Regions from separate parts of the Homo sapiens genome. Here region 1 is linked to region 2. Evidence: fine-mapped expression QTL. A gene starts in region 2. The other region holds a variant in brackets. All regions are shown on one strand. Distances are between the middles of the regions.

Region 1 (5,380 bases), 120 kb before region 2:
GAGGCTGGAGGATCGCTTGAGCTGGGAAGTAGAAGTTGCAATGAGCCAAGATTGTCCCACTGCACTCCAGCCTGGGCGACAGAGCGAGACCATTTCTTAAAAAAAAAAAAAAAAAAGCAATGATGGTATGATTAACTAAAAGACACCAACAGAGCCAAGCCAACAATACAAGTTTCTTTAATGTAGGTAAACACACAAGAATTTTAACAGCTTGAAAACATAGAGGACACAGCCGCATACTCAGATAGAGAGGTCAGCTTCCCTGCTCTGCAGGTTCCCCCCTGAGGTCAGATGACTTTTGCTGAATTTACCTGATGAGGGTTGAGATACCATCAGATCTTTCAAGAAGCTCTCTTGCCATTCTCTTAGAGTTTTTTTTAAAGCCTTGGTTCCCCTCTAGCACTGGAAATGGTAGCTATGTGTCTGCCTGCTCACTAAGTGCAAGTAATTGGTGATAACTCCAGCCCATTGCTGAATGTGAACTTGAGAAAAGAAGGCTGATTTTTCAGGCGTACCATCCCTCTTAAAACCCTAAGTTTTAAGTTGGTCAGAGGATAACCTTTGCAATGTAGACACTAGAATTTGTTCAAAAAGGGTGAATAGGATCTTTTTTAAAAAATGTAATATATAAAAACCTTTTAAATTATTAGATTGTCTCATTTTAAATGTTTTCCCCATTTTGTGGTTTTTAAAAATTATGGTAAAATATACGTAACGTAAAATTTACCATTTTCTACATTTTTAGGTGTACAGTTCACTGGCATTAAATACATTCATATTGTTGTGCAACCATCAGCACCATCCATCCAAAGAACTTTCATCGTCTCTAATTAAAACTCTTCTCTACCTGTTAAACAACTCCTCATTTCCCATTTCCCCAGCCCCTGGCAACTCTCATTCCATTTTCTATCTCTATGAGTTTGTCTACCCTATGTACCTTACATAAATGCAAATAACCTCTTAGTTAACGTGAAAATTAGTAAAAAGAGATGTGACTATATAGAAAAAACATGTAATTGTGTTTTTATGTGCAAATGCGACGACAGTGTGTGTGTGTGTGTATATATATATATATGCTATTTTGCAACTTCCTTCACTTAGCAATATAGTATTGTTATTTGTTATCTAATGCTGCATAACAAATTGCTCCAAACCTTGGTGGCTTAAAACAACATTTATTATCTCACAGTTTCTATGGATCAGGAATCTGGATGTGGCTTTGTTGGGGCTCCTGTTTCAGGATCTCTCAAAAGGCTGCAAGTCAAAATGTTGCCCAGCAGGAGGATTGCTTGAGCCCAGGAATTTAAGGCTGCAGTGAACTATGATCACACCACTGCATTCCAGCTTGGGTGATAGAGTGAAAGCCCAGCTCAAAAAAAAAAAAAACAGGCCGGTGGCTCACGCCTGTAATTCCAACACTTTGGGGAGGCTGAGGTGGGCAGATCACTTGAGGCCAGGATTTCGAGACCACCCTGGCCAACATGGAGAAACCCTGTCTCTACTAAAAATACAAAAATTAGGCCAGGCACGGTAGCTTATGCCTGTAATCTCAGCACTTTGGGAGGCTGAGGTGGGTGGATCACTTGAGGTCAGGAGTTTGAGATCAGCCTGGCCAACATGGTGAAACCCCGTCTCTACTAAAAATACAAATATTAGCAGGACGTGGTGGCATACACCTGGAATCCCAGCTACTCGGGAGGCTGAGGCATGAGAATCACTTGAACCTGGGAGGTGGAGGTTGCAGTGAGCTGAGATCGCACCACTGCACTCCAGCCTGGGCGACAGAGCGGGACTCAGTCTCAAAAAAAATAAATAAATAAAATAAAAATAAAAATTAGCCAGGCATGGTGGCAGGTGCCTGTAATCCCAGCTATTCAGGAGGCTGAGGCAGGAGAATCGCTTGAAACCCAGGAGGCGTACATTGCAGTGAGCAGAGATTGTGCCACTTTACTCCAGCCTGGGTGACAGAGTGAAACTGTCTCAAAAAAAAAAAAAAAAAAAAGAAAAGAAAAGAAAAGGAAAGGAAAAGAAAAAGTGTCGCCTGGGACTGCAGTAGACTCAGGCTTGCTCATGTTGTTGGCAGAATTCACCTTCTCCCAGGCCATTGGACCACGGAGTGCAGTTTTGCTCTGGCTGTCTGCTGGAGGCCACCCTCAGTTCCTTGCCACATGGACTTCTCCATAGGGCAGTTCACAACATGG[C/A]AGCTTGCTTCATCAGAAGGAACACAAGAGTCAGAGAGTGAGAGTAGAGTGAAAGTCAGTCTCTTATCATCTAATCTCAGAAGTGACTCTCTATCACTTTTGCCATATTCTACTTGTTAGACGCAAGTCACTAGGTCCAGCCCACACACACAAAAGATGATACAACGGTGTTAATATCGGAGGCAGGAATTGGGAGCCACTGTAGAAACTGCCTACCACAAATATCTTTCTGTTACCAGCATATATCTCAACTTCATCCTTTTTTTTTTTTTTTTGGTAATAGTTACTCTTTTTTTTTTTTTTTTTTTTTTTTTGAGAGAGGGTCTCTGCAGTACAGCGGCACACTCACAGCTCACTGCAGCCCCAACCTGCCAGGCTTAAGTGATCCTCCTAGCTCAGCTTCCCAAGTAAGTGAGACTACCGGCACATGCCACCAGGCCTGGCTAATATTTCTATTTTTTGTAGAGACAGGATCTCGCCATGTTGCCCAGGCTGTTCTTGAACTCCTGGACTCAAGCAATCCACCTGCCTTGGCCTCCCATAGTATTGTGATTACAGGTGTGAGCAACTATGCCCAGCCTACTCTATTTTGAGATAAATGTCTGCAACTTAAAAAATTTGTATAAAGATGAATATACCTCTGCATCATGGAGAAGACTGCAGAGAGCCTACTATCCTTAACCTCTTCCTTGAAGGATAAACATAAATTCATCAAGAAACAAAGTGGGGAAGGTATTCCAAGGAAAGAAAAAAGCACATGAAAATGGGTAAAAAATGGAAGGATGCATCATGGTGGGTGTAGAGAAACAGGAAATTTTTTCTTTTCTTTTTCTTTTTTTAGATGTGGATTCTTGCTCTGTTGCCCATGCTGGAGTGCAGTGGCATGATCATAGCTCGCTGCAGCCTTGATCTCCTGGGCTGAAGCTGGCCTCCTGCCTCAGCCTCCTGAGTAGCTGGGACTACAGGCACGTGCCCACATCCAGATAACTTTATTTTTTTGTAGAGACGGGATCTTGCTACGTTGCCCAGGCTAGCTTTAAACTCCTGACCTCAAGTGATCTGCCTGCCTTGGCCTCCCAAAGTGTTGAGATTACAGGTGTGTAAATCTCTAATGCCTGAGATTACAGGCATGAGCACGTCTGGCTGAAAATTTAAATATGGTTTGAGGAAGGGGTTCAGGCAGACGAGATTTACAAGATTTGGAAATAATAGCAGCATCTAACATGTGCCAGGCACTGTTCTATGCATTTAATGTGTAATAATTTATGTAATTCTTACAACAACCCTATCAGATACAGTAGAATTATTGTGCTAATTTTCCACCTGGAAAACAGACACAGAGAAGTAAATAAACTTGTCTGATATCACATAGCTATTAAATGACAGTTTGACTCCTGGCAGTTTGACTTCACTGCTAGGTTCACTATCTGCCTTTCTTTTATTTATTTAATTTTTTTTAAATAGAGACAGGGTCTCACTATATTGCCCAGGCTGGTCTCAAACTTCTGGGCATAAGTGATCCTCCTGCCTTGGCCTCTCAAAGTGTTGGGATTACAGGTGTGAGCCACCATGTCTGGCCACTATCTGCCTTTCTCTTAAAAACTTTGTATGCCATGGTAAGAAGTTTAGATTTTAATTTTAGGTAACAGGCTGGGCGCAGTGGCTCACACATGTAATCCCAGCACTTTGGGTGGCTGAGGCAGGCAGATCACTTGAGGTCAGGAGTTCGAGACCAGCTTGGCCCACATGGCAAAACCCTGTCTAGGCTAAAAATACAAAAATTAGCCAGGCTTGGTGGCAGGTGCCTCTAATCTCAGCTACTCAGGAGGCTGGGGCAGGAGAATCACTTGAACCCAGGAGGCAGAGGTTGCAGTGAGCTGACATTATGCCACTGCACTCCATCCTGGGAAACAGAACGATACTCTGTCTCAAAAAAAAAAAAAAAAAAAAAATTGGAACAAAGAGCCAATGATTTTTAAGCAAAGGAATGGCTTTATTAGATTAATTTTGGGGGAAGATTACTTTGGTACCAGCTTTGAGGGTTAACTAGTAGAACAAGAAAGTTTATAAGGAGAACAAGGAAGAGACTATTCCTATGATTCAGAGATGAGGAGGACCTGAATTCATGACAGGTGGCAGTGAATACACAGATCAGGATTAGTGTGCCATTTCCAAAGTAAATGAATAGGATTTGGTGCCCAGTTGGATATAAGGATTAGGGAGGAGTCAAGGACAACAAGTCAAGTTCGAGAATCTTGCAGAGCATCCAGGTGGAGCTGTCAGTCGCAATACTGCTGGGGAGAGAGATATGGCTAAAGATACAGATTAGTGAGTCATCCACTTCACTGGTGGTAATTAAAGTCTATGGGAATGGATTGCTCAGGTTAGCTGATCCAAAACAGAGCCTTAGGGAACACCAGCATTCAAGCAATGGGCAGAAGAAGAGAAATAGCCCATGAAAATACAGAGAAAGATGGGTAAAACAGGTAGGAAGATAATTAAAATACTAAACAGAAAGCAATAAATACCATAAAAGAGGTACAAACAAAGTAATGTGGGAGTTCAAAGTAGGATTACAACTTAATCTGAGTCTCTGTTAACTCACCTGTAAAATCAGGTTGGACTAAGTGATCTCTGAAATCACTTTTGTCTCTAAACCTTTGAATCTATTCAGTGTCTACCATGTGCCCATTAACATGATAGATGCTATGGAAAGAAAGGCACAACCCCTACTCTAGAAGAGCTTTCTTAATTTAGTTTTTTGTTTGTTTTTAGAGATGGAGTCTTGCTCTGTCACCTAGGCTGGAGTGCAGTAGCGCAATCCTAGCTCACTGCAGCCTTGAACTCCTGAGCTCAAGCGATCCTCCCACTTCAGCCTCCCAAGTAGCTGGGGTTACACACACGCACAACCATGCCTGGTTAGAAGAATTTTCGGTTTACTGGGGAGCTTAGTCTCTGCACAGCTACTGAAACAAAACAAAACAAAAAAACTGGACAAACAAAACCCACTGGAGATGGAGATCATTTATAATTAAGGGTTGAATTTTGTGGCATAGCCTGTGGGCTGCAATCCAGAGAAGGAAGGTGTAATAATATGTGTATAGAAGCTTCGTGGAGGAAGAGAGTGGACTTGGGCTGGATTCAGATAGAGAAGAATAATGTGGGCAGAAATAAAGGTA
Region 2 (5,380 bases):
TGTTATCTTATATCTTGTACTTCAAAGTATTAAAAGTACCTTTAACACCATATTTTTTAGTGAAACATTCTGCCAAACTGAACTAATTACTCATTTCATTGTTCCAAATGAAGGGAAGTGAAATACCACATTACCTAGCAATTTTAGTGATCCTAATGCAATCAGCAAGGAAGCTTTGCAATTTTATTTTTTCATCTTATTTCCAGGCACCATCTCCTTTAGCCAAACCACCCATTTCTACACACCCTGGCCTTCAGTACAATGGACTACAACACATTCCTCAAACATACCATATACTTGCACACTTATCCCTGGTTTTCATTCATATCTCCTGTTTCCTGACCCAATTTCAGCAAACTCCTATTCATCCTTCAAAGCCAAATTTAATATCTTCTCTCTAATCGTCCTCCCTACCACACGCAGAATGATTTTTCCTCATCAGTGGTTAAATTCTATCTATACTTCTTTCTTTTTCTTGCAACTCTTCAAACGTACCTAAATCTATACTTCTTTACAGCTCTTATCATGCTGAAATTGTAGAGCCTTATTTACATGTTGGGTTATAAGCTTCTTAAAGACAGGGAAGCATTTTCTCTTCTTGAATCTAATACTTAATTTACAGTCTGAGAACAGATATTTTTAACTTCTTAATGAAAGAAGTTATGAGGTGCTTTTTAATGAAAAATAAGCACCTCATATTGTTAAGATAATGCCATAACTGTTGTTACTGAGGGACTGAGAGCTTAGAATCATCCCCATGTCATTCACTGGCAACAATAACAAAAAAAGGGTTCCCACAGATAAACTATAATTACATCGTTTTAATTGCAATAAAACTGGTATTGCAATACCAGTTTATTTTTTCCTCTTTCTTTCCTTCTTTTTGAAATAGTTTTTTATAGACCTCTTTTTAAAATACCTATTAGATGTCATTTGTATCTCACTCACAGAATTTGAAACTCAGTATAGCGCAAAGGTTACAATCAGGTCCTTGGAGAATGACTGATTTGAATCCTACTTTTGCTATCTAGGTTGTCTAATCATGGGCAAGTTACTCAACCTCTCTATGCCTCTTAATGAGATAATCATAATAACATCCCTCATGGTGCTGTTGTGAGGATTAAGTAAGCTAATACATGTAAAGAATTTAGAATACTGCCTGGCACAGACTAGGTACCAATGAATGATAGCTGATGTTGTTATTGTTACCATCCGCTTTAAAAACAGCTTTTGTTTTTTCAGTACTTATTTTAGCCCACTTGGTAGAATGGAATCTCCTAGATGACAGGAATTACATACTGCTCTTACATAAATATAATCTTGTGCCTATTGTGTAGTAGGCCCTCAAAAAACAATGTGAATGTAAGGTTTCAGACCTCCAAGATCAAGAAATTGTAAATCACAGAAAAATTTATACATGGAGTACGTTTAAAACTCATGTTTTAAAGTAGCTTCAAAAGACCCATCCTCCACTGAATTGCTGAAACATGTTTAAGTAAAACTTCTAAAGCAACACACACAAAAATTACATTCACTAGTAACTTTCCCTCTACTACTTCATTTAATTTGATCTTGGTATCCAGTGGTCTAAAATTCTTGCCTATAACTTAAGACTCACTACAGACCATTTAAAAGTAATATAATTTCCAGCTTTAGAAAACTGCTTATTGTCATTAAGAAAAATAAATATTCTTCCTTTATTGCTGCATTTAAAAAACGTACTGCCACATTCAACACACACACACACACACACACACACACACACACCCCAACTAATGAAAGACCAAGACACATAATTACTACATTTCCTGGTTTCTGCCTGGCAAACTCAGAACAGGCCTACAAGTATCCCCAGCAAAAGCCTACAGGTTACAAAACTGCCATTTTCTTTTTTATTTCCCATCTCCCCGCTAAAATCCCTCGCACACATATCCATAGTAAAGAACAAAAACGTCTATAATAAAGGCTGTATGAAAAAATATGGCTATATATTAACAATATTTTGGAAGATTTAAATCTTCCTATAAGCAGCCCGTCAATTCACAAAAACAAATTAAAGTCTTGATTTGGAACAATATTCCCAGCTTACTTTAGCAGGTATCTTAAACTACAACTATTTAGCTAAGACAAAGAAGTAGATTATTTGATTGCTACAGACTTCGCGGTAAATGATTCAGCAACAGTGTATAGATAACACCACTGTGCTATTCTAGAAAATTTCATCAATCATTTAAAAATAGGACACACTCAAACAATGGGGGTCACTTTGTGGGAAAAGTTTAAACAACTTATTTACACAGTAAGCAAGGATCTATCACTTTATCTAAAACACTGCAGAAGAATCACTAGCTTTAGGGTAAACGTTTGTAAAGTGCCTACTATGTACCAGGCAAGTAGTAGTTGCTTCACAGAATATACACGCTCCACACGCACGTTCAAATATCTGACATTTGTAGAATACTGTCACTCATCTGATTTGACCCTGAGAATACCCATAGGCATGAACTTGCCAGTTTCACAGTTACGGAAAGAGAGGCCCAGGAAGTTAATTTGGCCGAGGTATCACATCTGGTTCCGCGGGTTCTGGCCCTAGACTTGAGCCTTTTGACTCATAATCTAATCATCAGCTGCTATACAGCTCTAGTTACTCAAAAGCTCTTAGGTGTTCCACTGTCAGACTTTTAAATTAAAATTCTACTTGACAACTTTCGGTATTGTGCGTATTAGATGCTGTTAAGAATCAAAACACCAAAAAAAGCAAAATATTGTTTGGAAGTGCATCGTCCCAGCATGTCGAAGTTCAAGCTCACTGGCTAATTTTGGAGAAAGCCCGCGTTTCCCCAGGCTGCCGGGCGCTCCCTCCCTCTTCCCCAGCAGAGAGCGGCGCCCAGCCTAGGGGTCCCCAAGCCCCTGAGGTAGCGAGGAGGTCTTCAGCCAGGCTCCGCCACAACCCGTGCGGCCACGAGAGGACGTCCCAAAGCTGGGCCCAACAACCGGTTGCTCCTCCGGACGGAGGAGGTGCCGAGACAGCGGGGCGCGGAGACACCACCTCCGCCAGCTCGGCTCGCACCGTCCGAGGACTACGCCGCGGCGCCACAGCCCCGCACCCGACGCCCAGAAGGGTGATGCCGACAGCCCCGAGAGTCCGAAGCCCCTGCGGCTTAAAACCCCGCGCCGAATCACCCCGACTCTTACCTGTCTGTACCTCAACGTTGTCTCCTGTGGCCAAGCTAGTCTCCCGGGTATCACTCGGGTCCGCTCCGTCCCGCCCCCGCAGGCCCTGCCGAAGGCCCCGTCCCGGCTGCAGCCCCACCCCCTAGCCCCGCCCTCCCTGGCAAGGCTCAGTTCTTATTGGCTCCTATTCCCACCCCTCACGCTATGCCCGCCTCCGACACCGCCCCGGCCGGCGGTGAGGGGAACCACCACGCCTCAAGTCCGCTGTATGGCCAGAACCTTGCCAGGACCTCGGTCACTGCAGTTCCAGCAGGCGGGCGACCAGTGTCACCGTCGTCCGGCCAAGCCCTCGAGCCAGAGCTCCATCGCCTTCGCCTGCCGTCGCATCGGCCCCACGGAGACGGCCCTATGCTTCATGTGAAGGTTTACTCTTCACAACTACTCAACAAGATAAAGCCTGGCTTAATCAGGGAATCCAAGCACTGTTTCCTAGGCTGACCTCAGTGAGCAAACAATTGCACTACGGTGCCAACTTGAAACGTCAAGAGAAGCAAATAACTCTCGCGGCACCTCAGGCTTGGAATCTCAGAACGGGGGTGCCTTGATACTCCCAGTGCGTGAGGTCAGCCCCCACGCCCTGTTGAGACACACATGCCTAAGCGCTCCGCCTGCAACACGCTCTTGCTTAGGTATGTGCGTGGTGTTGTGCCTACTGCAAGCTGTAACCCAGTTTCACCGAGGCTGCGGGACAAGGATCAGTTGAGCCTGTTTCCCAGGCACTCGCTAACCACCCCACCCCGCCTCGCCCCGCCCCACCCCACCCCACCCCACCCAGCCAGAGCCTCTTGGGTCTGGTGACCAAACTCTTCCTACATTTGTTCACACAGAGGTACCAAAATAGAAGACTACCAGAAAGAGAGGTGTTTAGTTACGTATCACGGATGACTGTCACAAGCAAACTTAACCCAAACAATAAAGGTAGCATATCCCAAACCGTTGTGAAACTATCACCTGTAGACAGTAAAACAGAAATTACATTCTATGATGGGGGAAAAAAAAGTAATGACATACTTAAAAAAAATCATGTCCCAATGAGGAAATAAATGTGGATATTGTTTGTAGTAAATTTTGCACACTGATCATTATGGGCTTCCCCCACCAAAAAAAAAAAAATTCTTATATAATGTGTCTATCTATTTATTTATTGAGACAGGGTCTCTTTGTGTCACTCACACTGGAGTGCGGTGGCCCAATCATAGCTCACTTGAAGTCTCAACTTCCTAGGCTCAAAGAATCGTCCCACCTCGGCCTCCCAAGCAGCTAGTATTATAAGCATGCACCACCACCCCCGGCTAATATTTTTATTTTTATTTTTTTGTAGAGACAGGGTCTCGCTATGTTGCCCAGGCTGGTCTCCAACTCCCGAGCTCAAGCAGTCCTCCTGCCTCAGCCTCCCAAAGTGCTGGGATTACAGACATGAGCCACTGCACCCAGCCCAGAAATGTATTTTTTGACCCCTGCATTCAGGAAGATTATTTGGCAAAATAAGGCAGGTTGAATTCCAAGTATCACGTATGAAACCAAATTTATAGATTAATAAATGAATTCACATGTATGTATTCTACTGCCCTCTCATGGGTAAGATGGAGATATACATAATGGTAGTTAATGCCCTTTGAAGTCTGAGAATACAGTGTTTAATGTAGCAATTTGTACTATTTTGATGATGAGGAGGCCAAGGTAAAATAAAATCTGGTTCTTTAAAGGGTTCACAAATACTCAACAAACAAAACTTCAACTTCAGAAATCAGGAAGAGATTCTTACACCAGAGCTAGTACAAACATGCCATCAGGGTTACACCTATGCTTATGGCTGCATGTGTAGAATATAGAAACGTGCAGAAATTTGCTTTCAATTTTTTTTCCATTTGAAAGTTCAGGCTGGGCACAGTGGCTCACGCCTGTAATCCCAGTACTTTGGGAGGCCAAGGCACATGGATCGCTTGAGCATAGGAGTTTGAGACCAGCTGGGGTGACATGGTGAAACCGCGTCTCTACAAAAGGTTCAAAAAAGTAGCTGGGTGTGGTGGCATGTGCCTGTAGTCCTGGCTACTCGGAAGTCTGAGGTAAGAGGATCACCTGAGCCTGGGAGGCCGAGGCCGCGGTGAACTGTGATTACACCACTGCACTGCACTCCAGCCTGGGT

Which allele goes with the higher level. Positions count from the first base shown, and alleles are read on the strand shown. Sizes are in standard deviations (SD) of each study's normalised expression.
For the expression in tibial nerve of the gene that starts at base 3,262 in region 2, allele A in region 1 goes with a higher level than allele C (moderate effect, 0.64 SD a copy in GTEx).

The links. PIP is the estimated chance that this variant, and not a neighbour inherited with it, causes the effect.
Region 1: its variant is the best candidate, but not a certain one, in a credible set for the expression of DENND2C in tibial nerve (GTEx, PIP 0.64).

What each region holds. Positions count from the first base shown.
Region 1 is chr1:114,550,257-114,555,636 of GRCh38, forward strand. No RefSeq gene overlaps it. Among named protein-coding and RNA genes, the nearest start is that of BCAS2, 29 kb to the right of the region's middle. The variant C/A (reference allele first, on the strand shown) is at 2,202.
Region 2 is chr1:114,666,788-114,672,167 of GRCh38, forward strand. DENND2C (DENN domain containing 2C) reads right to left here and starts at 3,262. Exons shown (of 21, transcript NM_001256404.2): 1 at 3,196-3,262. LOC124904354 (a long non-coding RNA gene) reads left to right here and starts at 3,624. Exons shown (of 2, transcript XR_007066465.1): 1 at 3,624-3,863; 2 at 4,062-4,167. RefSeq lists a silencer at 3,266-3,355 and an enhancer at 3,476-3,635.